Linked DNA regions of Homo sapiens: region 1 is linked to region 2. Evidence: fine-mapped expression QTL. A gene starts in region 2. The other region holds a variant in brackets. All regions are shown on one strand. Distances are between the middles of the regions. Region 1 overlaps ZNF341 (zinc finger protein 341). Region 2 holds the start of ZNF341 (zinc finger protein 341).

What was found. PIP is the estimated chance that this variant, and not a neighbour inherited with it, causes the effect.
Region 1: its variant is fine-mapped to the expression of ZNF341 in whole blood (TOPMed, PIP above 0.99).

The regions. Positions count from the first base shown.
Region 1 is chr20:33,785,411-33,799,993 of GRCh38, reverse strand. It overlaps ZNF341 (zinc finger protein 341), which reads right to left. Exons shown (of 15, transcript NM_001282933.2): 13 at 11,020-11,131; 14 at 10,406-10,476; 15 at 7,725-9,006. The coding sequence ends at 8,477. It overlaps ZNF341-AS1 (ZNF341 antisense RNA 1), which reads left to right. Exons shown (of 4, transcript NR_110623.1): 2 at 1,999-2,076; 3 at 4,378-4,480; 4 at 12,217-12,621. Among named protein-coding and RNA genes, the nearest start is that of ZNF341-AS1, 18 kb to the left of the region's middle. RefSeq lists an enhancer at 7,557-7,851 and a silencer at 14,268-14,317. The variant G/A (reference allele first, on the strand shown) is at 8,925.
Region 2 is chr20:33,724,437-33,739,019 of GRCh38, reverse strand. It overlaps ZNF341 (zinc finger protein 341), which reads right to left and starts at 7,024. Exons shown (of 15, transcript NM_001282933.2): 1 at 6,968-7,024. The coding sequence starts at 6,998. LOC124904890 (a long non-coding RNA gene) reads left to right here and starts at 7,037. Exons shown (of 2, transcript XR_007067569.1): 1 at 7,037-7,374; 2 at 9,859-10,083. RefSeq lists enhancers at 4,914-4,993, 4,952-5,655, 7,324-7,383, 7,394-7,453 and a silencer at 6,504-7,213.

The sequences.
Region 1 (14,583 bases), 61 kb before region 2:
TGAGCCACTGCGCCCGGCCCCTTATCTCAATTTTTAAAAGTGCGTTGAAGTAATGAAGAGGGAACATGTTTTGGTGCCTACCACACAGACCTAGATTAGAATTGGGGCTCTGCCATTCAGCCATGTGCTTTACCTGCCTTGGTTTTCCTGTCTGTGAAACAGAAATAACACTATATTCCTCACCAGGCCATTCTGATGATTCAGTGACAACACAGACAAAGGCCTTAGCACAGAGTATGTATTCAACAGATATTTATGAAATAATAACAACAGGAATAATAATCATTAACATCCACGGAGCTCTCACTCTGACAGCTTACATAGAATATCTCATTTATTTACTTATTTTTATTTTATTTTATTTTTTGAGACAGGGTCTCACTCTGTCACCCAGGCTGGAGTGCAGTGGCACGATCATGGCTCACTGCAACCTCTGCCTCCCAGGCTCAAGCGATCCTCCCACCTCAGCCTCCCGAGTAGCTGTGACCACAGGTGTGTGCCACCACACCCAGCTAATTTTTGTATCTTTTGTAGAGACAGGGTCTCCCTATGTTGCCCAAGCTGGTCCTAAACCGCTGGACTCAACTGATTCTCCCCCCTTGGCCTCTCAAAGTGCTGGGATTACAGGTGTCAGCCATCACGCCCAGCCAGATTATCTCATTTAATCATCCAACTATAGTTCTATGAGGTAGTTACAGATTACAGCTGAGGAAACAGAAGCTTGGAGAGGTTGAATAACTTGCCGAAGATCACACCATTATTGAGTGGACTGGTTGGCACTTGAACCGTGAGAAAATAACAGAGAATCTTCATCAGCACTTTATGCTAAGCCAGACACTGAGCCGAGGATTTTACATGCATTACCTCATTTAGCCCACACAACAACTATATGAGGTAGGCTTTATTGTTCCCATTTTATACATTAACAGAGGTTGGACAGCTTGCCTAAGATCACACACTTGTAGGAGGCAGAGCTGGGATTCTTACTGTAAAGGCAACCAGTTTAGCCACTGTGCTATTCTGCCTACATGCAAATAATGAATGAACAGAGAGACACTCACACCTACAAACAGGTAAATAAATAAAGTGTGGTGGGCCTGGGAGCAGGTCTCACCTCCCAGGGGAGTGGGGCAAAGTAAGCGATGGGGGCAGGAAAGGCCCAACCCAGCAGAACTTGAGGGGTTAAGTGAGGAGTGAGGGGGAGGTGGGTGAAACTGTTGACCAGAAAGGACCCTACACTTGTGCTAATGGTGGGTTACAGGGCCTACTCCATACCCATTTGTCTGACCACATGCAGGCCATGCAGCAGGCCCTAGACGGCCACACAGGCTCCAGTCAATGACTGTGACTCCCTGGACTTTACCCCAGGGAAACCCTCATCCTCACCCAGGCGCAGGCCCAAGGCACAGGTAGACTAGAAGTCTACCTGCACGAGGAAGGAAAAGTCCACATCCAATCCCTTAGAATATCCTGTTGGCTCTATCATCAAAATATATCCAGAAAGCTATCATTTCTTACCATCTTCATTGCGGTTACTCTGGTCAAAGCCACCATCATCTCTTGCCTGCACTATTGCAGTAGCCTCCTGGTGGGCAGGATAATGGTCCTTCAAAGACGTCCATGTCCTCATCCCCAGAATCTCACCTTAAATGGACTTTGTAGAAGTGTTAAGGAGTTTGAAATGATGAGCTTATTGTGGATTATCCAGCTGGCCTCAATGTAATCACAAAACAGAAGCAAGAGGTTTCAGAGTCAGAGACTGGCAGGATGCTGCCCTTCTGCCTTTGAATGGAGAAAGGTGCCACAAGCCAAGGAATGCAGGTGGCTTCTAGAAACCGGAAAAGACAATGGAACAGATTCTCCCCTAGAGCCTCCGGAAGGACAAAGCCCTGCCAACACTTGATTTTAGTCCAGTGGGAACCATATCAGACTTCTGACCTCCAGAGTGATAAGATCTGTGTTGGTTTAAGCCACTAAGTTTCTGATTCTTTATTACAGAAGCAAGAGGAACCTAATACTCTTCCTCATTGGCCTTCCTGTCTCCATCTTTATTCCTTCCAGCTCATTCTCTACATGGTAAGCAGAGGTATCCTTTAAAAAATATGTGTTTGGCTGGGCACAGTGGCTCATCCCTATAATCCCAGCATTTTGGGAGGCCGAGGCAGGCGGATCACTTGAGGCCAGGAGTTCAAGACCAGCCTGGGTAACATGGTGAAACCCTATCTTTACTAAAAATACAAAAATTAGCTGGGCATGGTGGCATGCACCTGTAGTCTCAGGAGGCAGGGGCACGAGAATCGCTTGAATCTGGGAGTTGGAGGTTGCAGTGAGCTGAGATCACGCCACTGCACTCCAGCCTGGGTGACAGAGAGAGACTCTGTCTCAGGAAAAAAAAAATTATATATATATATTTTTTTGACATCTGACATATATATATACACACACATATATATATACATATATGTACACACACACACATATATATGTTTTGACACTGGACATACATATGTATGTCGGATCCAGTCACTGAATGCTCACAATCCTCCAATGGCTCTCCACGTCCCTCAAGTAAAACCCAAAGTCCTTTCAATGTCCCTCAAGTCCCTACATGATGTCATGATTTTCCTGTCACCTCCTTGCCCTCCCCCTTTCCAGTGCCTCACTCCAATCACACTGGCCCCTCTACTCTTCCTCAAACACACCAGCACCCTCCAAACTCTCAAAACCTCTACTCACCTCTACTTTTTTTCCTTCTCTATAGTCCTCGTCACCTCCTAACATCTATAACTTACTTATTTACTTTGTTGTTTATCTTCTGCTTCCTCCACAAAGGATCTCCACAAATGATTGTTTTGCTCATGATGTATCATCAAAGAACTATGCTTGGCACGTCATAGGTACTCAAGAAATATTTAATCAATAAATAAGTGGACTGAGGTAGCAGTGGCCTGGGAAGCAGCCTTGCCTTGATGAGACTTTGGACAAGACCTTTTCTCTCCCTGGGCCTGTTTATTCTCTGTGATTCTTCAAAGGACGCAAGGCCCTAAAGTTGGGTTCTGTGCCTAAGCCTACCTGAGGCACCCTCAGCTAGTAAGAAGTCACTGCCAATCCTTAGATGGAGCCTGCTCACCTCCCTGATCACCACCCTTCAGGCCCTGAAAGCCTTGTGTGTGGGGGGGTCACTTGCTGGCAGCCTTGGGGGTTGGGAGCACCCGTAGCTGCCACCTCCACTCCTTCCTCCCCAAAGGAGACAAAACTAGTCCAACCAGTTCCCTGGGCCACAGGGACACCTGCTCTGTCGACTTCCACCTGCTCTGTCGAGACTTCCAAGCCACCTGCCTTAGTCATTTGGCCCAGATATTCTCTGCTCCCTCTTTGAACAAAGGAAGATATCCTTTTATATCAGACATTACTTCCCAGGACCCTGGGTCAGTCATATCTCGGTCTACATGACAGATTCTCTGGTCTCCCTGGGGTGAGAGGAGCGGGTGGGTAAAGTGAGCCTTCTTCTCTCAAAGTGCTGTTGTTTATTCATTCGACAAATATTGATTGAACAATTCCTGGGAAGGTCTAAGCACTGTAGATACTTCAGGAACAAAACAGACAAAAGTCGATGCCTTTGTGGACCTTTTGTTTCTAATGAGGACAACAGACAATAAACAAATGTCTAATATAATGTCAAGGGTGACGTATAAAAATAAAATAGGGTAAGGAATTCGAGAATGATGGAGGTGGGGCTATGTTACACAGATTGGCCAAGGAAAACTTATCAGAGGAAATGAGTTTTTTTGTTTATTTATATATTTATTTATTTATTTTGAGACAGAGTCTCACTCCGTTGCCCAGGCTGGAGTGCAGTGGCATGATCTCAGCTCACTGCAACCTTCACCTCCCCAGTTCAAGTGATTCTCCAGCCTCAGCCTCCTGAGTAGCTGGGATTACAGGCACGCACCACCATGCTCGGCTAATTTTTTGTATTTTTTAGTAGAGACAGGGTTTTGCCACGTTGGCCAGGTTGGTCTCAATCTCCTGACCTCATGATCCACCCACCTCAGCCTGCCAGAGTTCTGGGATTACAGGTGTAAGCCACCACGCCTGGCCCAAATGTCCCAATTTTTTACATTTTCTAATTGCTTCTGGAGTATAGGAGCATAGTAGATTTGTATATATTGATCTTGCTATTATTTCAGCACCCTTGCTATTATCTCACCCTTTCCAATCCTGATACTATTTATTTCTTTTTCTTGCTCTATTATTCTGGCCAGGCCACTAATGTAATATTGGAGTCATAACAGCAGGCATCCTTGTGTCATTCCTGACACTTCACCACTGTAGTATATTTTAAATTTGTTTTTAAACGTTGGCTTACTTTTTCAGACACTGTGAATGCCAAACTGTCTGGAGGCTGCCATGAGCGGCCAATTTGTGATCTCTGCTTTACCTGAATTATTTCCGTGAATTGTGACATCAACCTCGCCAGGTAGGTACTATTATTCTCCACACTGACACAAGGAAACTGAGGTTCAGAAAGGTGAAGTGACTCGCCATAGTCACACAGCTAGGAGGGGGCAGAGCCAGAATTCAAACCCAGCTCTGCTTGATACCAAAGACTGTAATCTTTCTCTTTTTTTTTTTTTTTTTTTTTGAGACAGAGTTTACTCTTAGAGTAAGAGTCTGTCCATGAGTTTACTCTGTCACCCTGGCTGCAGTGCAATGGTGAGATCTCGGCTCACTGCAACCTCCGTCTCCCGGATTCTACAAATTCTCCTGCCTTGGCTTCCCAAGTAGCTGGGATCACAGGCACATGCAACCACGAATGGCTAATTTTTTGTAGTAGAGATGGGGTTTCGCCATGTTGGCCAAGCTGGTCTCGAACCCCTGACCTCAGGTGATCCGCCCATCTTGGCCTCCCAAAGTGCTGGGATTACAGGAGTGAGCCACCACACCCGGTAAAAAAACTGTGATCTTTCTGGGGGTGGAGTGAGACCCTGGATGCCTAGGCCAGCCCCTTTTTATGCTCCACTCTGTCCAGCATCTTGGAGTTCGGTGGCAGACCCTGGGGTCCTGGAGCAGCTATCTCCAACTTTCTTTTTTATTATTTATTTATTTATTTATTTATTTATTTATTTATTTAATGAGACAGAGTCTTGCTCTCCCCCAAGCTGGAGAGCAGTGGCATGATCTCGGCTCACTGCAACCTCCGCCTCCCAGGTTCAAGCGATTCTCCTGCCTCAGCCTCCCAAGTAGCTGGGACCAGCTCCAGGGCCACCACATCTGGCTAATTTTTTGTATTTTTAGTAGAGACAGGGTTTCACCATGTTAGCCAGGATGGTCTTGATATCCTGTCCTCGTGATCTGCCTGCCTCGGCCTCTCAAAGTGCTGGGATTTGTCACCAACTTTCTGTTAAACATTATAGCTGATCTTGGTATGTCCTTATCTGTGGCTTGGCTCTGCTACTTCCCTCCTGTGTGACTTTGGGCTGCTTAACCTTAATGTGCCTGTTGCCTCATCTCAGCTGCAAAATGGGCTTAAAAGTAGTGCCTACATTGAGGTGCTGGGGATGGTGCCAGGCATTCATTCGATAACTAATAAATGTTAGTTCTCGTGATTACCAGTAGACGTGTATGCCTGTGTGCACTGACAGGAAGAAGCTATAGAAAAACCACTTAAATAGTTATATTAGGAAGAAGATGTCATTTTTTTTTCTTTTTTTGAGATGGAGTTTCACTCTTGTCACCCAGATTGGAGTGCAATGTCACGGGATCTCAGCTCACTGCAAACTCTGCCTCCCGGGTTCAAGCGATTCTCCTGCCTCAGCCTCCCAAGTAGCTGAGATTACTGGCATGTGCCACCACGCCCAGCTAATTTTTTTGTATTATTAGTAGAGATGGGGTTTCACCATGTTGGCCAGGATAGTCTCAAACTCCTGACATCGGGTGATCCACCCGCCTCGGCCTCCCAAAGTGCTGGGATTATAGGAGTGAGCCACCACACCCGGCTGAAGATGTCGTTCTTCACATTTCTTTCAATGCCATTGTTACAACTTTTAAAAATGTTCACTGTCTCCCATGACTCCCCTTCATTATGTGGAGAATAAAGTCCAGATTCCTTAACCCACATCTAAGGCCCTCTCTGATTCATCAACCCACACTTCAATCGTGGAAAGTGGCTAAGAACCCATGGAGGCAGGCTGCCGTGGCTTGAGTCCCAGCTCTGCAGCTTTCCTGGCTGTGTGAGCTTGGGTAAGGAAGTTTACCCCTCTGGGCCTGGGTTTTCTCAGCTGTAAAATACAGAAAGTAACAGCACTCACATGACAGGCTGAGGCGACGTGACTGTAAATAGCCTGGCACAGTGTCCCTCGTGTGGAGAAGGTGAAGCAACAGCCATGATCATTATCCACCTACTCCTCTGAGACCTCTGGTCACCCTGGAACATCCGCCGGCCCCAGAACATAGCAGGCCTGGCACTGTCCCACCCCAAGGTGTTTGCACGCGCCCTGCTCTCACCCAGCACACCTTCCCCTATCCATCCACCCATCAAAGCACCCCGGGCCAAGGCCCAGCTCCAGGGGCATCCCCTCTGACTTCCTGTCCCCACCAGTCCCCCTCGGGCCTTTGTGCAGGCCGGTACACTTACACACCTCACCCCCATCAACTCTGTCCCTCCTGCCGCGTCACACCCTTCCTGAGGATGTGGGAAGCTGGGCCTGGCTCTGAGTTCCAGCCCTGAGATCCAACACAGATGCCTGAGGGACCTGCCAGCCTTCAAAACAATTCAGTCATCAAATGGAGTCCAACAGCCCAGAAGGGTGGCTGTGAAGATAAACAGGAAAACACTAGTCAAGGCCCTTTTCTCCTTCCCGCCTCCTCATGAGCCCGGTCCACCTCCCACCGGGACCAGCTGAGAGGTAGGAGGAAGCACTGGACGCGGTGACATTGATGGCCTCCAGATGCCGACACGAGAGGGATTTCTGATCTTGTTTACAACGGATTTGGAGGTGGCTAACTATCCTGAATTCCCACAAGTGAGTACAAACCCCGACCCCCATGGGGTGTTGTCCTGGACTGTTTTCTGTGGATGGGTGTTCCCAATTTCCTTTCTTTTTTTTCGTTTCTTTTCTTTTTTTTTAAATCTTTGAGACAGGGTCTTGCTCAGTTGCCCAGGCTGGAATGCAGTGGCACAATCTCAGCTCACTGCAGCCTCAACCTCCTGGGCTCAAGTGATCCTCCCACATTAGCCTCCAGCATATCTGGGACTGCAGGCACCCACCACCATGCCCAGCTAATTTTTTTTTTTTTTTTTTGAGACAGGGTCTCACTCTGTCTCCCACACTGGAGTGCAGTGGCACGATCTCAGCTCACTGCAACCTCTGTCTCCTGGGTTCAAGTGATTCTCCCGCCTCAGCCTCCCAAGTAGCTGGGAATACAGGTGTGCACCACCACACCCGGTTAATTTTTGTATTTTTACTAGAGACGAGGTTTTGCCATGTTGGCCAGACTGGTCTCAAACTCCTGATCTCAGGTGATCAGCCCACCTTGGCCTCCCAAAGTGCTGGGATTACAGGCATGAGCTGCCGTGCCCAGCCTTGCTTCCCTTATCATCTCTCCAGGGCTCCCTGTGTGAGGGGCCTGGGACCCCTCAGCCACCACAAGCTTCAGAGGGGGAGTGCTGCCACCTAGGGGCAAAGAAGGAAACTGCCACAGCTTGGCCCAGGCCACCCGGACACGTTATGACAAAAACATTTATTGAGCACTTTCTGCGTGCCGGGCACCATGCCAAGCCCCTGGCGCACTTCATCATACTGGATCCCCAGGACAACCCTATGAGGTAGTAGTATCGTAAGCCCCATTGTACAGATGAGGAACACGGGGCTCAGAGAAGTGAAGTGACTTGCCCAAGGTCACACAGCAAGTGCATGGCAACTCTTGGATTTGAAGCCAGATCTGTCTCATAGCTGCAGTCTAGCCGTGACACCTGAGTGCCTCCTAAAAGCTACATCACAGAGCTGTCTGAGGATGCTGTGGGGAACCGTCTGTGAAAAGGTGCAACACGTAAACTCCGAAGAGTTTATGGCAGGCCTCCTGAAGAACAGCAGACTAGAGGCTACCCAGAGGCAGCCTGGAGACAGAGTGGGGAGGAATGCCCTGTCTCCTCTCCCAGGGGCCCCGACCACCAGCCTAGACCAGCGGGACTCTGGGCTGCTCAGGCTTCAGCCATCTCTCTCCTGCCACCATGGCTCTGCCCAGAAACCGTGGATGGCCCTGCCCCCAACCCTAGAATGTTGCAGGGCTTTCCGGCAGGAGAGGGGCACAGGAGGGCGACCATGGGCTGAGGTTTCTGAATGACATTCAGCAGGATTTCTGCCAATGGCTCGATGGCTCGCTTCCACTGGTAAGGATCACCGGTCTGCCCCCAGGGGCCCTGGACCCAAACAGGAGCATCAGGCCTGCCCAGGAAACAGACACCTCAGGTCCGTCACTCGGAGGCCTGGATGTAGACGGGCACAGCGAGCATGGCACATGGGCCCTCGGCCCCAGCCTGCAGCTCCGCCAGAGCCAGGTTGGAGCCCAGCCCCTCAGCGTGTCCAGGTACCACCAGCTCAGTTTCCGCGCCCACCGCACCACCCACAACGATGGACAGCACCGCGTCCGGCTCTGCGAAGGGCGGCTTGCCGGGGACAGCCTCGGGCACCAGCCCAGCCCCTGTGTCCTTCAGCTCCTCCAGCCCCAGCGGGTCAGGCAAGGGGGTCAGCACCTTGCGCCCACCACTGCCGCAACTGCGGGGGGCTGCCCTCCTCTGGGGGGGCCGCCGGGTTTGCAGGTCCTTGTCCTTTTGGGGGCCGAGACGACAGCGGTGATCTTTGAGGTATTTGTGGCGGGAAAAGCCCTTGGCGCAGCCAGCACAGCGGAACTTGTAGTTGCCC[G/A]TGTGGGCGCGCTGATGCTCGGCGAGGTGGGCACGGCGGCTGAAGGACTTGCTGCACAGGGCGCATTTGTGGAGCTTCATGCCTGGAGGGCAAGGGAAAGTCAGTGAGAAGCATCCAGACCTTCACCCCGCAACAGTGCCCTGCGCTGGGAATAAAATCCAGGCTCTTTCCCCACCAGCACCTGTGTGATCTGGCCCCAGCTCTCTCCACCCTCGTCGTCTGCCTTCTTCCAGCCACTCTCTGCGCCAGCCACACTCGCTCTCCTCAGAGATGCCACGCTGGCTCCTCCCTCTGCGCCTTTGTACTTGCCATTCTCCTCTGCCTGGAACAGCTGCTCACTCTCTGCACCTTGGCTCGCTTTGCCAGGTCATCTCAGGCTCAGGGAGGGGCCGTGACGCCTGAGGCCACCCACAGGAACATGGCAGCACTAAGACTCCAACCCAGCCCTGTGTGTCCAAGTCATTGACCTACTCTCCCAGTTTTCACACTTTCTTTAGTGACTGACTCCTTTCTGTAAACCTTCTCAAACAAGGGAGACTTTACCCCCCAGAGGACTCAGCAATGCCTAGAGACATTTTTGGTTGTCACAACTGTGGGGGGATGCCACTGACACCAGTAGATAGAAGCCAGGGATACTGCTAAAAATCCTACAGGGCACAGGACAGCCCCCAGGACAAAATTATCTACAGGATTACAGGCCAGGCGCCGGTGGCTCACACCTGTAATCCCAGCACCTTGGGAGGCCAAGGCGGGCAGATCACTTGAGGTCAGGAGTTCGACACCAGCCTAGCCAACATGGTGAAAACCCCATGTCTACTAAAAATACAAAAATTAGCTGGGTGTGGTGGCAGGCACCTGTAATCCCAACTACTTGGGAAGCTGAGGCAAGAGAATCGCTTGAACCTGGGAGGCAGAGGTTGCAATGAGCCAAGATCACACCACTGCACTCCACCTGGGTGACAGAGGGAGGCTCCGTCTCAAAAAAAAAAAAAAAAAATTATCTGGCCCAAATTGTCAATGGTGCCAGGGTTGAAGAACCTTGTTTTAGACCTCGGCTGGCATGTGGAAAGCCAGCCAGGCTGCTCTGAGGAGGCGCTGAGAAACTGAGGAGTGGCTTGGAGACCCCTGCCCTGCCCTATCAAAGAAGCTTCCTGGCCATGTCTTGGACCTGGCTGGAATCTGATTCCCTCCACACCTCGTCCACACCTCTATTACACTGGGCACTGCTCCAACTGAGTCATCTCTGCTCAGGTCAGCTTCCTCCTTGGACTGGGGGACTGTGTCTGATTCATCTCTGTTCACCCTTAAGTCCCTAACACAGGCCTGGCTCATAGCCCACATAAGTGAAAGTGCTGGCTGGAATGTGCCAGGCAGGGAAAACAAGCCTCACAGGATATGTCTGCTCTTTCTCTTCCTGGCGGGTCTATCCCAGTGAACTAGAGCTGAACCAGACCCTCTTAGCAGGCCCAAGAGCCACTTACCAGAGTGGGAGAGGATGTGGGCCTTCAGCTTGTCCGGCCGGTTGAACTCCTTACTGCAGCCTGTGTGCGTCCTAAAACCCAAAGCCACTGGTCAGGGGGAGCTCACCAAGCTTAGGATCCTCTTGCTGGCCCCTCCACTAGCCCTGGGCACAAGGGACAGCCTTGTCCACCCTAAGGGCTGGGCAAGGAGGTAGGGTGGGAAGTGAGGCAGGCAGGGCCCAGGACAGGATAAAAGGAGAGAGGCCTGGCCAGGCACAGTGGCTCACGCCTGTAATCTCAGCACTTTGGGAGGCCGAGGTGGATGGATCACTTGCGGTCAGGAGCTCGAGACCAGCCTAGGCAACATGGCGAAACTCCATCTCTACTAAATCTGTAATCTCAGCTACTTGGGAAGCCGAGGCAAGAGAATCGCTTGAACCCAGAAGGCAGAGGTTGCAGTGAGACAAGATCTTACCACTGCACTCCAGCCTGGATGACAGAGTGAGACTATGTCTCCAAAAAAAAAAAAAAGGAGAGGCCTGCCCTCAGGCCTGACATCTGTCCCACCCTCCCCAGCAGCACCCCTGGAGAATCTGTCCCGCTACCCACCCCCCTGCATGGCAGTCTCTACTCACGAGAAAGGGCATTTGTATTTCTTGAAGGGCTCGTGGATCAACATGTGTCTCTTCAGTTTGTCCTTGCGGTTGAACGCAGACTCGCACACTGAGCATTTGTAGGGCTTCTCACCTGCAGCAGACACAGACAGGGAGAGCCAGCACTCACCAGGAGTCGGCATCCAGGGCACAAGGGTCCCCGCTGGGCCCCTCAGGGGAGCAGCTCCTCTAGGGAGGTGGCCAGGGGAGAAAATAGCCTCTCTCATTCTTCAGTGGCTTTGTTTTGCCAGAGACAAGACAGGGCTATTTTGACAGGATGGTCAGGAGAGGCCTCTCTGATGAGGCCATGCATGAGGAGAGACCTCAGGTCATCAGGGAGATGGTCTGGGCAGCAGGGAAAGCAGGTACAAAGGCCCTGAGGCAGGAGTGCGTTTGGCGGTGCTGATGAACAACAGGGAGGCTGGTGTGGCCAGAGAACAAGGCAGAAGGTGAGGGCAGCGAGCCAGCCAGGTCCGCATGGGAGGACCTGGGAGGCAGAGCTAAGGACTTGGCTTTTATTTATTTATTTTTTTTGAGACAGAGCCTTGCTCTGTCACCCAGGCTGGAGTGCAGTGGCAAGATTTCAGGTGAGTCACTGCAACCTCTGCCTTCTGGGTTCAAGCAATCCTCCTACCTCAGCCTCCTGAGTAGATGGGATTACAGGTGTGTGCCACCACGCCCAGCTAATTTTTGTATTTTTAGTAGAGATGGGGGGTTTCACCATGTTGGCCAGGCTGGTCTCGAACTCCTGACCTCAAGTGATCCACCTGCCTTGGCCTCCCAAAGTGCTGGGATTACAGGCATGAGCCACCGCGCCCAGCCAGGACTTTGGCTTTTACTCTGAGCCAGAAGAGAAGCACCAGAAGGTCTGAACAGCAGAGGGATGGACTCTGATGTAAGCTTTTAACCAGCTCGAATGAGGGTGGAGGTGAGGATAACCAGGAAGTGGCCCAGGACAGCCATGTTGGGAAGGCACAGTCGGCAGCCCTTGCCACTGGACTGGCTGTGACTGTGAGAGGAGGAGAGGAGTCAAGGATGAGGCACGGCCTGAGAAGCAAGGTGGCCTCATGTCATTTCTGGCAATGCGGTCCACCCTGGGGGACGAGGAATCACACCTTATCTAACTGAATCCTTCCAAAAAACCAGGAGGCACTGACTCCCATCATCCCTGTTTCACAGATAAGAAAGAAGACTGAAGTTCAGAGAGGTGAAGGGACTGGCTCAGGGGCTACCCCTATGGTTGCGGGAGCTAAGATTCCAGCCCAGCAGCGTGATCCAGAGCCCATCTGAGCTACCCAGATCTTCCTGCTGTTAAACCCGTCCTGGGGCAGCTCTTGCCTGATGGGCTACCTGAGGAACCCACAGGAAATCAAGGGAGGTGCCTGCAAAGTTGCCGTGGGGTCACAGCCTGCCCTTTGGAAGGGGCTGTTTCTGGGCTGCTGTGACTTCCTGCCATTATTTCCTCTCTGTTCTCCCTCTGGAATGAATAAAGTACTTCTGAAAAACCATCAACCCAGTCGATACGGAAATGCTGGTCCCTACAATAGAATGCTCTGTGGTCATTAAAAAGATTAAAAAGGTCAATCTGTGTTTCCTGATCTGGAAAGATCTCCTGGACATACTGCTAGTGGGGAAAGAAAGCAGTAGAACAGCTTAACACAATCTCGTCTTTCTTAGAAAAAAATATAATCCCTACTGGATATGTAAGCTCCAACAAAAAAAAAAGAAAGAAAAAATACAACCTGCACACCCCAAAAAAGCCCTGGCCATGTGTCTCTGTAAATAAACTGAAGATGCAGGAAGAAAGATGGGGAGGTGTAGGGAAAGGACAGACCAAAGTGTCAGTGGCAACTACAACTTGAAGGGGAAATTTAACATTTTACTTTATGTACTCCTATATTGTTTCCATTTTTATAATAACCATGTATTATTTGTGTGGTTTTTTTTGTTTTGTTTTGTTTCGTTTTTTGTATTTTTTTTTTTTTTTTTGAAACAGAGTCTTGCTCTGTTGCCCAGGCTGGAGTGCAGTGGTTTGATCTTGGCTCACTGCAACCTCCATCTCCTGGGTTCAGGCAATTCTCCTGCCTCAGCCTCCTGAGTAGCTGGGATCACAGGTGCGTACCACCACACCCGGCTAATTTTTGTATTTTTAGTAGAGACGGGGTTTCATCACGTTGGCCAGGCTGGTCTCAAACTCTTGACCTAGGTGCTCCACCCACCTTCACCTTCCAAAGTGCTGAGATTACAGGCATGAGCCACCGCGCCTGGCAGCATGTATTACTTTTGAATAATAATTTTTAAAAGCCATAAAGAGCAATTTGGTAATATCAAACTTACAATGCATTACTTCTTTTCCCTTCTTTATTGTGGAGAAATATACATAACAGAAAATTGACCATCTTAAGCTTCTTTTAAGTGTATAGTTCAGTGGCATAAGTACATTTGCACCATCATGCAACCATCACCATCATCTGTCTCTAGAATTTTTTCATCATCCCAAACTGAAACTCAGTATTACACATGCATTTTAACCTAGCATTTCCACTCCTAAGAATATACACTACAGATACACTTCCAAAAGCTTGCCAAGGGACCCACACAGCATTGTGTGTACAAACTAATAGCTGAAATGTAATTTAACGGTTCATACATAGGCTGGGCGTGATGGCTCATGCCTGTAATCCCAGCACTTTGGGAGGCTGGGGCGGGGGGATCACTTGAGGTCAGGAGTTCGAGACCAGCCTGGCCAACATGGTGAAACCACATATCTACTAAAAATACAAAAATTAGCTGGGCGTGATGGTGCACACCTGTAATCCCAGCTACTTGGAAGGCTAAGGCAGGAGAATTGCTTGAACTCAGGCGGCAGAGGTTGCAGTGAACCAAGATCGTGCCATTCAGTCTCAAAAAAAAAAAAAAAAAAAAAAAAGGTTCATACATAGAGAACTGGCTAAATACAAGATGAAAAATTCATTGAGGAAGACTACTCAGATGTGAAAAAGAAGGTGCTGTTGGTAACAACTTCTGGGGGGGGCCCGGGGGAGGGGGACCCACAGAATTTAGCCTCCAGGGGAACTGTAAGCACACATTCCTTGGGGAACATCGCCAAGGTATATGATAAGGAAAAAAAGGCACATAAGTTATAGTATGTGCTCATTTTTGCAAACGTAAGCAAGCGTTTTATATATGTGTAAAATAAAACTAGAAGAATGCAGACTAGACCGCTAACAGTTACCTTTGGGGAAGAGAATTAGGAGTATTTTGCAAACTGCAAACCACAAGTTACACCCTGTTGGTGGTTATTTTAAGAATTAAAAATAGGCTGGGTGTGGTGGCTTGCATCTGTAATCCCAGCACTTTGAGAGGCCAAGGTGGGTGGGTAACCTGAGGCCAGGAGTTTGAGACCATCTTGGCCAACATGGTGAAACCCCGTCTCTACTGAAAATACAGAAATTAGCCAGGCATGTGGTGGGCGCCTGTAATCCCAGCTACTCGGGAGGCTGAGGCACGAGAATGGCTTGAACCTGGGAGGCGGAGGTTGTAGTG
Region 2 (14,583 bases):
CAGCCTGGGTGACAGAGTGAGACTCCGTCTCAAAAATAAAATAAAATAAAATAAAAAATTGAAACCATCAGCTACTGCAGCCAAACTGAATCCATGCCTTCCCTTGTCACAATGCAGGCTGTGTCCCTCCTGACGCTGCCAGCGCAGCCCTCCCCTCCATCTCCTCCTGCTCCTCAGAAGCCACTCTCCACCAACTCTCACCACACTGTGCCTGGGAACCATCCACAGCTACACACGATCAGTCTCTCCAGAGTGCCCTCCTGCAAATTCATGTTTCCATCTCTCCTCCCTTCAATGGCAAGTATCCCATGAGGGTCACCTACACCCTCTATCTCTTCTACCACCTTCCAGTTCTCCTTCCCCACTCTAGTGGGACTTAAGCCCTCCACTATCTGGAACCACCTTTGAAAAAGTTGCAAAGTGAGAAAATCATGACAGTGAAAGACACCTGACCTAACGAACCCCCATCTTGCCTTTAACCTCCAAACTGCCCTTAGTAATCCCTGGGCTTGGGCCAAGATAACTAGGGAGAAATTTAGTTTACAGTTTAAATGATAATAGCCCTTCCCCAAAACTAACCCTCCTTTGTGAAGCTAATGAAAGACCATGAGGTTAGGAGGATAAGAGGAACCTACATTCTGGTAAGGTGTAGACATAAATATTACCAGCCATTATTCCAGAGATCACAAGATTTGCAACTTCCCCAATTACTCCTGCATATAATATTATTATCATTATTATTATTTTGAGATAGAATCTCCCTATGTTGCCCAGGACAGTCTCAAACTCTTGCACTCAAGGGATCCTCCCACCTTGGCCTCCCAAAGTGCTGGGAATACAGGCATGAGCCACCACGCCTGGCCAACTTTTTTTTTTTTTTTTGAGATGGAGTTTCACTCTTGTTGCCCAGGCTGGAGTGCAATGGCGCAATCTTGGCTCACTGCAACCTCTGTCTCCCGGGTTCAAGCAACTTTCCTGCCTCAGCCTCCCGAGTAGCTGGGATTATAGGCACACGCCCCCATGCCTGGCTAATTTTGTACTTTTAGTAATGACAGGGTTTCTCCATGTTGGTCAGGCTGGTCTCAAACTCCTGACCTCAGGTGATCTGCCCGCCTTGACCTCCCAAAGTGCTGGGGTTACAGGTGTGAGCCACCGCACCTGGCCCCAACATCATTATTATAGAACCTAAGATTAGCCTTTTGAGATATCTTTTCAGATTTTTGCATTTCTGACAACCAATGGCTCCACGTAGACTCGCCAATGAGTCCTGCAGCCCCACCCAGAAGCAGACTCTGCATGTAGGAGGACCATTTTCCACAACTCTATGATTGCACCTCCAACCAATCAACAGCACCCATTCCCTTGTCCCCCAAACTATCTTTGAAAAAACCTAGTGTCTGGCTGGGCATGGTGGCTCACGCCTGTAATCCCAGCATTTTGGGAGGCCAAGGTGGGCAGATCATGAGGTCAGGAGATCAAGACCATCCTGGCTAATACGGTAAAACCCCATCCTTACTAAAAATATAAAAAATTAGCCGGGCATGGTGGCAGGTGCCTGCAGTCCCAGCTACTTGGGAGGCTGAGGCAGGAGAATGGCGTGAACCCAGGAGGCGGAGGTTGCAGTGAGGTGAGATCACGCCATTGCACTCCAGCCTGGGCAACAGAGCGAGACTACGTCTCAAAAAATAAAAAATAAAAAATAAATAAATAAATAAAAATAAAAAACCTAGTCTCTGAATTTTCTAGGAGGCTGATTTGAGTAATAACACAATTCCAGTCTCCTGTTCAGCTGGCTCTGTGTGAATGTAACTTTTTCTCTGTCGCAATTCCCCTGTCTTGATAAATTGGCTGTATCTGGGCAGCAGGCAAAATGAACCCATTGGATGGTTACAGTTCCACCAAAACACTTTCCCCATCATCACCAAAGACCATCTGGCAGCACCTGCCACTCCCTGAAACACTCTGTTCTTGGCTCCAGGGCACAGCCTTCCTGGGTCTTCTCTACCTTTCTGTGCCTCCTTTACTCTCTTCTCCTGGCCACCCCCTAAGTGTTTCCATTTTGAGGAAACACTTTGTCCTTTGTTCCTTTGTCTGGACTCTCTCACCTCTGCCTCTCATGCTGTCCCTGGGCAGTCTCACTCACCCCAGTCTACTTCCTTCCAATATCTGGAGTTTCAAGCCTGGGGTTCAAGCTCTCCTGAACAAGCTTCAGTGAATCTTCTACCATTTTATGCAAAATTGTGAGTGTTTTAGCATTTGTGTGCAAATCTGTATACAAATGTTCATAGCACTTTTAGGTATAACAGTAAAAAATTTAGCCTGGGCAACATGGTGAAACCCGTCCCTACTAAAAATAGAAAAAATTAGCTGGGTGTGGAGGCACGCACCTGTAGTCCCAGCTACTCGGGAGGCTGAGGCAGGAGAATCGCTTGAACTTGGGATGTGGAGGTTGCAGTGAGCCAAGATCATGCCACTGCACTCCAGCCTGGGCAACAGTGAACACTTTGAGATGGAATCTCCCCATGTTGCCCAGGTGAAAACCTGGTGGTCTTTCAATAGCTTTACAAAGACAGTTTAGTTTTGGGGAAGGGCTATTATCATTTAAACTGTAAATTAAATTTCTGCCGAAGTTAGCTTGGCCCAAGCCCGGGGATGACTAAGGGCAGTTTGGAGGTTAAAGGCAAGGTAGGGATTGGTTAGGTCAGGCGTCTTTCTCTGTCATGATTTTCTCACTGTTACAATTTTTGCAGAGGCAGTTTCAGAATGGTGGGGGGCTTAAGCCCCACTAGAGTGGGGGAGGAGGGCCAGAAGGTAGTAGAGGAGATAGAGGGTGTAGGAAATGGTTCAGAAGAACATCTGAACTGTTTCCAGTTTTTACTTTTTTTTTTTTTTGAGACAGGGTCTAAAAAAAAAAATAGTAAAAACTGGAAACAGTTCAGATGTTCTTCAGTGAGTGGTTAAATGGTGAAATAGCCATACTATGGAATACTACTAAGCAATAAAAAGGAACAAACTATTGCTATACACAACAACTTGGATGAATCACTAGGGAATTATGACGGGTGAAAAAAGCCCATCTCAATGGTATACACTTTATGATTTCATTTATATAGTATTCTTGAAATCACAAAATTTTACAAATGGAGACAGATTAGTGGTTGCCAGGCATCAAGGATGGTGGGAGAAGGGGAGGATTTAGGGTGTGGCTATAAAAGGGCAACTCCTTGGAGTGATGCCCCTGTTCTGTATGTTGACTGGTGGTAACACACTGTAGTTGTGCAAAATGTTACACCAGGGGAAATGGGGTCAAGGACACGTGGGATCTCTCTTTATCATTTCCCACAACTGCATGTGAATCTACAGAAAAAGTGATTTCAAAATAAAAAAATTTAAACAAATGCAGGGTGGGTACAGTGCCTCATGCCTGTAATCCTAACACTTTGGGAAGTCAATGCAGGAGGACTGCTTGATGCTAGGAGTTCAAGATCAACCTGGGCAACATAGCAAGACCTCATCTCTAGAAAATTTAAAAAATTGGCTGGGTGTCCTGGCACGCACCTGGGAGGCTGAGGTGGGAGGATCACTTGAGCCCAGGAGTTTGAGGCTGCAGTGAGCTATGAATGCACTACTGCACTCCAGCTTTGGAGACAGAGTGAGATCCTGTCTCTACAAATAAAAATAAAAAAGGCTGGCTGGACACAGTGCCTCACGCCTGCAATCCCATCACTTTGGAGGCCAAGGCGGGCAGATCACTTGAGGTCAAGAGTTCGAGACTAGCCTGGCCAACATGGTGAAACCCCGTCTCTACTAAAAAATACAAAATTAGTCAGGCGTGGTGGTAAGCGCCTGTAATCCCAGCTACTCAAGAGGCTGAGGCAGGAGAATCGCTTGAACCTGGGAGGCAGAGGTTGCAGTGAGCCAAGATCGCACCACCCCAGTCCAGCTTGGGTGACAGAGTGAGAGTGTCACAAAAAAATAAAAAATTAAGTTAAATTAAATTAAAAAGGCAGCCTGGGCCAGGCTCAGTGGCTCATGCCTGTAATCCCAGCACTTTGGGAGGCAGAGATGGGTGGATCACTTGAGGTCAGGAGTTTGAGACCAGCCTGGCCAACATGGTGAAACCCCCTTCTCTATTAAAAATACAAAAATTAGCCAGACGTGGTGGCATGTGCCTGTAGTCTCAGCTACTCGGGAGGCTGAGGTACAAGAATCACTTGAACCCAGGAGGTGGAGGCTGCATTGAGCCAAGATTGCACCACTGCACTTCAGCCTGGGAGACAGTGTGAGATGCTGTCTCAAAAACAAAAAAAAGGCAGCCTGTGTAAAACTGAACTTGAATTAAATGTCATCCTCCACCCCAAAGTTTGTTCTTCCAGTAATCCTCATCAAGGAGAACAGGGCACCAGGGCACCCTCTGGGGCGGCACCACTTGGGTCTTCCCTCAACCCACTGCTCCCCCTCCCCACTCCCCATTTCTGGTTCTTCTGCAAGTCTAGCCTATTCTGTCTCCCCAATACATCTCAAATAAACTGTCTTTCCATCCCCACAGTTGTTTACCAGCCCAGTTCTCTGCTGTACAACCTCAGCAGCCTCCACCCCGACCCCCCACTGCCACTCTGGCCCCCTCCAGTCTGTTCCAGAGCAGCTAGGGTGAACTTTATAAAACATACATCACATTGTGCTGCTCCCCTGCTGAAAACCTTTTGTTAGCTCCACACTGATCCCAAGATAAAGTTTAGCTGCTCCATCAAACCCCATCTCTAGCAGTTCACCCACACCCAGCTTCTGTGAATCCCAGGAGACCTTTCTCCCCAGGGCTTTGAAAATGCAGTTCCTGCTGCCTGGGCCATTCTCCTGCCCTCCTCCCCTAGATCTCCACAGTCCTGCTGCCCTTTCTTCACCCAACATGCATCCCACTGTCCTAGGAACTGATTTCTCTTTAACTGTCTTCATTACTCAATACACAAACACATTCTTGCAGTAAATATTCAAACAATGAGGAAGTCCAAACAGCCTAAAGAGAAAGTAAGCCTCACCCCATTCTATTGGCCTCTGGGAGGGAACTACCACTGACCTCGGCCTTCCTGATCCACCACCTCCTGCTTATGTTATTCACAGTAGGAATGGCCAGCTGAGGTCATCTTATTCTACATGACCTTTTCCATAATTCTATAATTTCTATAATTGCTTGTTTTATAATTTCTCTCCTCTACCAGACTGCAGGGCAGAAACTACAGGGAGTGTCTGTCTCAGTCAGTCTTTGAATCGGAACCCCACTAGATGGAGACAGGGCTACCCCGCCCCCCATTTCCTGGTGCGAATTGTGATCCTTCAAGAAGTGAAGGGAGTCCTGGAGCAGTCGCTCACGCCTGTAATCCCAGCACTTTGGGAGGCTGAGGCGGGCAGATCACTTGAGGCCAGGAGTTCAAGACCAATCTGGCCAACATGGTGAAACTCCGTCTCTATTAAAAATACAAAAAAATGGCCGGGCGCGGTGGCTCACGCCTGTAATCCCAGCACTTTGGGAGGCCAAGGCGGGCGGATCACGAGGTCACGAGATCGAGTCCATGCTCGCTAACACGGTGAAACCCCGTCTCTACTTAAAATACAAAAAAAAAAAAAAATTAGCCGGGCGTGGTGGCGGATGCCTGTAGTCTCAGCTGCTCTCGAGGCTGAGGCAGAAGAAGCAGAAGAATGGCGTGAACCCCGGGAAGCGGAGGTTGCAGTGAGCCGAGATCGCTCCACTGCACTCCAGCCTGGGCAACAGAGCAAGACTCTGTCTCAAAAAAAAAAAAAAAAAAGGAAATTAGCCGGGTGTGGTGGTGCACGCCTATAGTCCCAGCTACTCAGGAGGCGGAGGCACGAGAATCGCTCAAACCTGGGAGGGGGAGGTTGCAGTGAGCCGAGATCGCGCCACTGCACTCCAGCCTGGGCGACAGAGTGAGACTCCGTCTCAAAAAATTAAAAAGTGCAGGGAGTGGCTGAGATCTCCTAGGAAGCTGCAGGACTCAAAGCTTCAGCTTCATCCCGCCAGTCCAGTACTTCGAGTTTGCACCCTATCTGTATACTCATCTCATCCCACTCCTCCAAGACCATTCTTGGTCTGTATTTCCCACAATATCTATTCTGCGCCATGGCCCCGAGTCGCTAAGGCTGCCCTTCCTCCCCGACGCCCAGCAGATGCACACATGGAGGTGCTCAGTGTTTGCTGTCTCCAAAGCCCACAGTTTTGAGCCTGAGCACCAACCCCATCCCAGGTTCTTGCAGAGCACGGAACAGTCTGTCGGCACCCAGCGTTTGCTGGCCTGGGTCTGGGAACACCGCGTCCCGGCCGGGCACACCGCGCCAGCACCCACGGTGTCAGTTTAATTTGTAAAACTGCACCGGCCACGGTGCGCACTGCAGGCGCCAGGTGTTTGCTGGCTTGGGTCCCTAAGCTCTGAGTCCAGGCTGTGCACACAGGTGGCGCCTCTGCTGCTGTGGTCTGATTTTGAGACTACGTCCTAGCACGAGGCATACAGTCCGCTCCGCAGAAGTTCTTCGTGGTCAGGCCGCCGAGGCCCTCCTGCCCGCAGCTGCGACCGCACCCCCGTCCCGGGCCCCGCGCGCCGCCAAGCCGCCTCCCTGGCCGCGGCTGTTCCAGACCGCCCCGCCGTCGCCTCCCGCGCAGTTCCCTGCAGGGAGCCCCTCCCGCGCCCGCCCAAGGCCGCCCAGGCTGGCGCTGTTCCGGACCCGAGCCCCCTCCCCGCCGGCCTGGCTCTCCCCGGCTGTTCCGGCCCCGGAGCTCCCCCGCCGGGCCTCGGCTCCCGCGCTGTTCCCGCCCGCGCCCCTCCCGCCCCGCGGCTGTTCCAGCCCCGGCGCCCTCCGCCCCGCGGCCGCTGCGCGCCCTAGGCCGGGCGCTGCGAGGGCGCGGCGGGAGGGGGCGCAGCGCGGAACAGCCGCCTCCGCCGGCCCCGCCGCCGCTCACCCTCCAGGGCCTCAAAGATCGCCTGCGCCATCTTGGAGCCGCCGCCGTCGCCGCCACAGGAACCGAAGCCCGGCTACGCGAGCATTGTGGGAGCCGTGGCGGTTGAGTCGGGGCCGCCAGGGGGCGCCCAGGAGCCGCCGCCGAGCCCCCAGCCCTGGAAACCCAACCTAGGCTCGCGGGACCCCAGCATCTCTGGGCTGCCCTGGCTCCACTCGATAACCCAGTCACCGGGCCACCGAGTGTGGACCCCGCCTCACTTGAACGACCAAGTCTACACCGACCTTATATCCGCCGCACACGCGGAACTTCCCATCCCTATTATCTAAATCCGCATCCCCATCTCACCGGACCCGACCCCCCAGCTCTGACACAGAATCCCCCATTCCCACAGCACGTGAGTCCTCCAGGTCTGCTGCACGGACCCCATTTCCGCTGAGCACAGTATACCCCGACTCTGCAACAAACCATGACCCCTATCCCATCTCACCCAGACCACCCAACTGTCACAGGGATCTCCAGGCTGTACAACATAGATTCCCATCCCTCATCCCCTATTAGAGACTTCCCGCCCCTACTACCCTGCTCAACTCTGCCTGTTGGGAGCCCGCCTCAGCCTCCAGAGTAGCGGGGACTACCGGCACACGCCACCATGTCCTACTAATTTTTATTTTTATTTTTTTGTAGAGATCAGGGTCTCACTATTTTGTCCAGGCTGGTGTCAACTTCTGGCCTCCAGCGATCCTCACGTCTCGGCCTCCCAAAGCACTGGGATTACAGGCGTGGGTCTCCGTGCTGGGGATCCCATTATCTCTTAAGTAACTCCATCTCTTCACCCTCCATCCCTGCTTGTTGGGACCCCATTTCTGTCACATAAACCCCCAACACCCACCCCAGCCACTCCTAGCCCAGCCTCCGAGGGGTCCTATCCAGGTCTCACAGAATGAGAGGTGCTCCTCACTGGGACTTCCCCTACACACACAGACCCCTCTCATCTTCATTCATCCTCCATCAACTGCTTATTAACGGCCTGCTATGCACCAAGTCCCGTAATAGCTCTAGAGACATGGTGGTCCTTTCCCATGGAGTTAGAGGTGGGAAGAAAGACCGACATTAGGCCAGGCGCGGCGGCTCATGCCTGTAATCCCAGCACTTTGGGAGGCCGAGGCAGGCGGATCACGAGGTCAGGAGTTCGAGACCATCCTGGCCAACCTAGTGAAACCCCGTCTCTACTAAAAATATAAAAATTATCTGGGCATGGTGGCACGTGCCTGTAATCCCAGTTACTTGGGAGGCTGAGGCAGGAGAATTGCTTGAACCAGGGAGTCAGAGGTTGCAGTGAGCCGAGATCGTGCCACAGACTCCAGCCTAGCGACAGAGCAAGACTCTGTCTCAAAAAAAAAAAAAAAGACCGACATTAAATCTTAAAGGTTATTTAATTACAATGTGTATGCCGGCCACAGTGGTTCACACCTGTAATCCCAGCACTTTGGGAGGCTGAGGCTGGAGGATCATTTGTATCCAGGAGTTTGAGACCTGTCTGAGCAACATAGTGAGACCCCGTCTCAACAACAACAACAAAAGTAGCTGGGCATGGTGGTTTGCACTTGAGTACCAGCTACTCAGGAGGCTGAGGCAGGAGAATTGCTTAAGCCTAGGAAGTAGAGGCTGCAGTGGGCTATGATCTCACCACTGCACTCAAGCCTAGGCAACAGAGTGAGACCCTTTCTCAATAATCAATGTGTGATAGTGGTTTCAAAGTACCCTTGGGAAACAAGCAAGAGTTTAGGGAGTGCATAGAGGGGAGGGGGAAACTAAGGAAGGGGCTATTGTTAAAGAAAAAATTAGGCCGGGCACAGTGGCTCACGCCTGTAATCCCAGCACTTTGGGAGGCCAAGGTGGGCAGATCACCTGAAGTCGGGAGTTTGAGACCAGCCTGACCAACATGGAGAAACCCCGTCTCTACTTAAAAACAATAAATAAATAAAATTAGGTGGCCATGGTGGCACATGCCTATAATCCCAGCTACTCGGGAGGCTGAGGCAGGATAATTGCTTGAACCCGGGAGGCGAAGGTTGCGGTGAGCCGAGATCACGCCACTGCACTCCAGCCTGGACAACAAAAGCAAAACTCCATCTCAAATTTAAAAAAAAAAAGAAAAAGAAAAAATTATTTACCTGGGTGTGGTGGCTCCTCTGTAATCCCAGCACTTTGGGAGGCTGAGGTGGCGGGAGGATTGCTTGAGCCCAGAAATTGGAGACCAGCCCAGGTAACATAGTCAGACCAGCATCTCCACAAATGATTTTTAAAAATATTAGCCAGGTATGTGGCACATACCTATAATCCCAGCTACTAGGTAGGGATGCTGAGGTGAGAGGATTTCTTGAGCCAGAGAAGTCAAAGCTGCAGTGAGCCATGATCATGTCACTGCATGCCAGCCCGGGTGACAGAATGAGACCCTGTCTCAAAAAAAAAAAAAAAAAAAGAAAAAAAATTGTTCAATGATCTTTGCTAAAACACAAACACAATAAGGAAGGCTTTATTCAGAACTACTGCGATAGGTACCACTACAAAGGGGCCTTGCAGTGGGGGAGAGAGACTGGGCTCAACTCTGAATACAGCATAGGCAAGTGGGAATTTATAGCCGAGGAACATCATGGGGGCTGGGGGTAGGGAGGTCAGTTGATAGAAAATTACCAAGAGGAAACATCGGAGGTAAGGGGAATTCTGGCTAAACCGACCTAACAGGATTCTTGCTGAAGATGGGCTAGGGTAATCAACATCACCTAGGAGATGGTGACAGATGAGGAACCTGATCAGATATCTAGGATGATTAAATATTAAGGATGGGGGTTCCTGCTAAACTGACTTAAAGCATTCTTTGTGAAAACTAGATTTTACAAAGAAGTGCACAGGTGGGCCTAGCAGAAGATTCCAAAGTCTGACCAAGCAGTTACAGCAAGCAAAGAATCTTTGTCACCATCAATCATGAATCTCTCCCATGATCATGGCCACATCGTCATACAACGGGACAACCATGGATTGGACTCTAAATGTTCTCATTGGTTTTACTAAAATACCTATTTTAGCCTCAGCTAAATAAATAACAAATATCATAATTTTCATTTTCTTGTATTCACTATATAACTCCTACAATTAAAAATTATTTGTTTGCAGCTGGGCATGGTGGCGCACTGCTCTAAGCCTAGCACTTTGAGAGGCCAAGGCAGGAGGACTGCATGAGCCCAGGAGTTTGAGACCTGTGAACTACAATTTTTTAAAATTGTTTTTTCAAAGTTCCTCTCCCCTTGGGGAACCCTGCTAGCCACTGTTCCTGACAAGTTGTCTCTGTGGAGACAAAAGTGACTCCATCTTGGATGCTAATCCCCCATGTTGACTTCTGATTAGCCCCAGTCCCGTGAATGCCTCCTGATTCCTACTTTATTTACTGTCCCTAGTCAGCCTGATGTTATTGCACAAATTATAAGCTATATGCCGCCCTGATGTTATTGCATAAATTATAAGCTATGAAACATACAGCATTCTTGTCTGCTCTGGAAGTTTCCTTTAATTGTCTTGCAGAGAGCACTTAAAACTCTTTCCCTGTGGAATATAAGGCCTAAGTCTTGGGGTAACAGAGGGAGAGATCTCCTGTCTTGCTGCCGCCCAAGCCCATGCTGCTTTTAAGATCCCCCATTAAAACACCCTTTACTGACAAACTGAATTTGTCTGCCTCATTCCTTGGTTTTTTGGCTCCGTTGGCATTTGGGGACCACTTTGTATATATGGCCCTTTCACAGAATAGCCTCACAGACTCTCTGCCTATTTACCCCCTCAAGGCCCATTTCTGCCGGTGAACTCCTTGTACTTCCCTGAACACCACCCCTGTGCACACCACTGCTACCCCCTTACCTCCATTTCCCTTCCCATTCCCCCCTGCACAGTGAGCCCTGAGCAAATGTTCCCCACAGAAAACCCAACCTGCCAGGGGCAGTGGCTCAAGCCTGTCATCCCAGCATTTAGGGAGGCAGAGGCTGGAGGATCGCTTGAGCCTAGGAGTTCAAGACCAGCTGGGGCAACACAGTGAGACCCCATTCTCCACAAAAAGGAGAAAAAGAAAAAAGAGGAAATCCACTCTTCTCCAAGACACCACACCCCACCTACCTTCCTGGGAATCTTGAAGGGCACACCCCAAGCTGTGAGCGCCCCCTTCCATTGCCTTGCTGGCAGGGTAAAGTCAGGGTTCCTTCCTCCCTGTCTCTAACATGCTCACTGATCCAATGGCCTCAGATTCTCCCCTCTCCCCTGCAAGTTTCTCCATATAACTATTCTTTGTTTGTCTGCATCACCAAAGCCTGCAAAGTATACCTATTGTTTTTGTTTTATTTATTTATTTATTATTTTTTGTTTTTTGAGACAGAGTCATGTTGTGTTGCCCAGGCTGGAATGCAGTGGCCAATCTCTGCTCACTGCAACCTCCACCTCCCGGGTTCAAGAGATTCTCGTGCCTCAGCCTCTCAAGTATCTTAGACTACAGGTGCCTGCCACCATGCCCAGCTAATTTTTGTATTTTTTGCAGAGACAGTGTTTCACCATGTTGGCCAGGCTGGCCTCGAACTCCTGAGCTCAGGCAATTGCCTGCTTCAGCTTCCCAAAGTGCTGGGATTATAGGCGTGAGCCACCACGCCCGGCCTGTTTTAGTTTTATTATTCAAATAAGAAATGAATATGTTCACATTTATTTGATTACTTTCAAAATATTTGTTGAGCACCTACTGTGTGCTAGACACCATTCTAGATGCTGCGGATGCAGGCATGAACCAAAAGACAAAAATCCTTGCCTTCATGGAGTCTTAGTCTAGCTAGGTGAGATGGGCTGTAAACAAGGGGAAAAAAAAAGAGAAAGAGAGAAATTTTCTATGACTTTAAATACTTTTTTTCCAGAAAGAGGGGAAGCTACTTTTAGACAGAATGGTCAGGGGGAGTCTGTCTGAGGAAGTGGGCCTGAGAAATAAGCTGGAGTCAGCAATGTGAAAAGAGAAGAGAAAGGCAGAGAGACCAACAAGTGCAAAGGCCCTGAGGCCAAAATGAAAAGAGGCCAAGAACTGTAAAGGGGCAGCTGAGAGTAATAAGTGATGTATGGGTATTTGTATTTTCAGTAGAGACGGGGTTTCACTGTGTGAGCCAGAATGGTCTCGATCTGACCTCGTGATCCACCCACTTCGGCCTCCCAAAGTGCTGGGATTACAGATGTGAGCCACTGTGCCTGGCCAGCTTCCCATATATTTCCATACCACCAGGTGCATATGCAGAGTAGATTTTCATCTATGCTGTTGCATAGATGCATATTGCATATGCTGTTCTCTCCTGCTGAAACGCCTGCAACAATAGGAGCTTGGCCATGCGCCATGGCTCACACCTGTAATCCCAGCACTTTGGGAGGCCCAGGTGGGCAGATCACCTGAGGTCAGGAGTTCAAGACCAGACAAGACTCTTGTCTCAAACTGTGTCTCTACTAAAAATACAAAAATTAGCCAGGCATGATGGCGCATGCCTGTAATCCCAGCTACTTGGGAGGCTGGGGCAGGAGAATCGCTTGAACCCAAGAGGCAGAGGTTGCAGCAAGCTGAGATATGAGCCACATATGCCTGTAGTATACCTGTTGTCTCAGCTACCTGTAGCTGAGATCTGGGCTACAGAGCAAGACTTCATCTCAAAAAAGAACCCCACCACCACCCCCACACACACAAATTGGACCCCAGGGCTTGGCACAGAGGCAACTTGGGAAATGCTTCACTGAAGGCTTGACCGATGGAACTGAATGAGTTTCAGGGAGGTAGAGCCCCACCTCTGGCAGGCTCCCCAGTCAGGCTGCCCCCACTCCAAACTTTCCACCCCTTACTGGCATCTCTTCATCCACCAAACACTTATCAGTCACATGTCCAGTTCCCTTGGGGCTACCTGGTTGGCACCGAACAGAATCCAATCACAGCTTAGAGACTCCTGGGGTAGGTAATGTAATAATTCCAGGCAAGGGGTCAAGCAGGGAGGAGGGAGAGTGGGAAACGTCCAGTGTCCCACTCCACAGTGAGTGCTCCAGCCACCCCAGAAAAATTAACTTCTCTGTGGGGAGGGAAGAATCTCATGCTTAAATCAGACTCCCAGCTACAAGGGGAAGAATGTGCTGACACACAAGGCAATGCTGGGTCCTGACATCTTGTTAGGTTGGTTGGTGTTGGTAGTAAGCAGCAAAGCATGTGGCTGTTATGGATTGAATTGTGTCTTCCCCACAAAATTCATACGTTGATGTCCTAGCCCCTAGTACCTCAGAATGTAACTGTAACCTGAGTCTTTAAAGAGCTAATTAAGGGGCCGGGTGCGATGGCTCATGCTTGTAATCCCAGCACTTTGGGAGGCTGAGGTGGGTGGATTAGCTGAGGTCGGGAGTTCAAGACCAGCCTGGCCAACATGGTGAAACCCTGTTTCTACTAAAAGTACAAAAATTAGCTGGGCATGGTGGCGCGCACCTGTAATCGCAGTTACTCGGGAGGTTGAGGCAAGAGAATCACTTGAACCCGGGAGGCAGATGCGCCACTGCAGTCCAGCCTGGGTGACAGAGCAAGATTCTGTCTCAAATAATAAATAAATAAATAAATAAATAAAGAGCTAATTAAGGTTAAACGAGGTCCGGCCAGGCACAGTGGCTCAGGCTTGTAATCCCAGCACTTTGAGAGGCTGAGGTGGGCCTTGGAGTTTGGCAAGGTCAGGAGTTCAAGACCAGCCAGGCCAACACAGTGAAACCCTATCTCTACTAAAAATACAAAAAAAAAAAATTAGCTGGACATGGTGACGGGCACCTGTAATCCCAGCTACTAGGGAGGCTGAGGCAGGAGAATCACTTGAACCTGAGAGGCAGAGGTTGCGGTGAGCCGAGATTGCGCCACTGCACTCCAGCCTGGGCGCAACAGAGCAAGACTCTTGTCTCAAAAAAAAAAAAAGGTTAGGGCCAGGCGCGGTGACTTTAGGAGGTCCAGGCGGGAGGATCACTTGAGGTCAGGAGTTCAAGACCGGCCTGATCAACATGGTGAAACCTCATTTCTACTAAAAATACAAAAATTAGCTGGGCGTGGTGGTGGGTGCCTGTAATCGCAGCTACTCAGGAGGCTGAGGCAGCAGAATGGCTTGAACCTGGGAGGCGGAGGTTGCAGTGAGCCAAGATCACGCCACACTGCACTCCAGCCTGCGTGACAGAGCAAGACTGTGTCTCAAAGAAAAAAAAAAAAAGAAAGAAAGAAAGAAAAGAAAGCACTCAGGAAACAATCCCTGGCCCACAGGCAGTACTCAGTACTGTACTCTCTGTAAGTGCTTACTGGGCAAAGGTGAACAAACAGGCCCTGCACTGAGGAACTCAGAGTTACGTAAAATTAAAAAGGTCACCAGATAATAAGCGTCCCCATTATTGCAACTCTATCCTTAGCACCCTGCAGGGCCCCTTGAGGGCAGAAACTTATTCAACTATGTGAGAAAGTACTTAGCAAAAGAGAGCACCCAGGAAGAACTTGCCAAACCAAATAGTTTCGAAACACCTTCTGATGCCGGGCCGTATGTCAGGACTTTGTG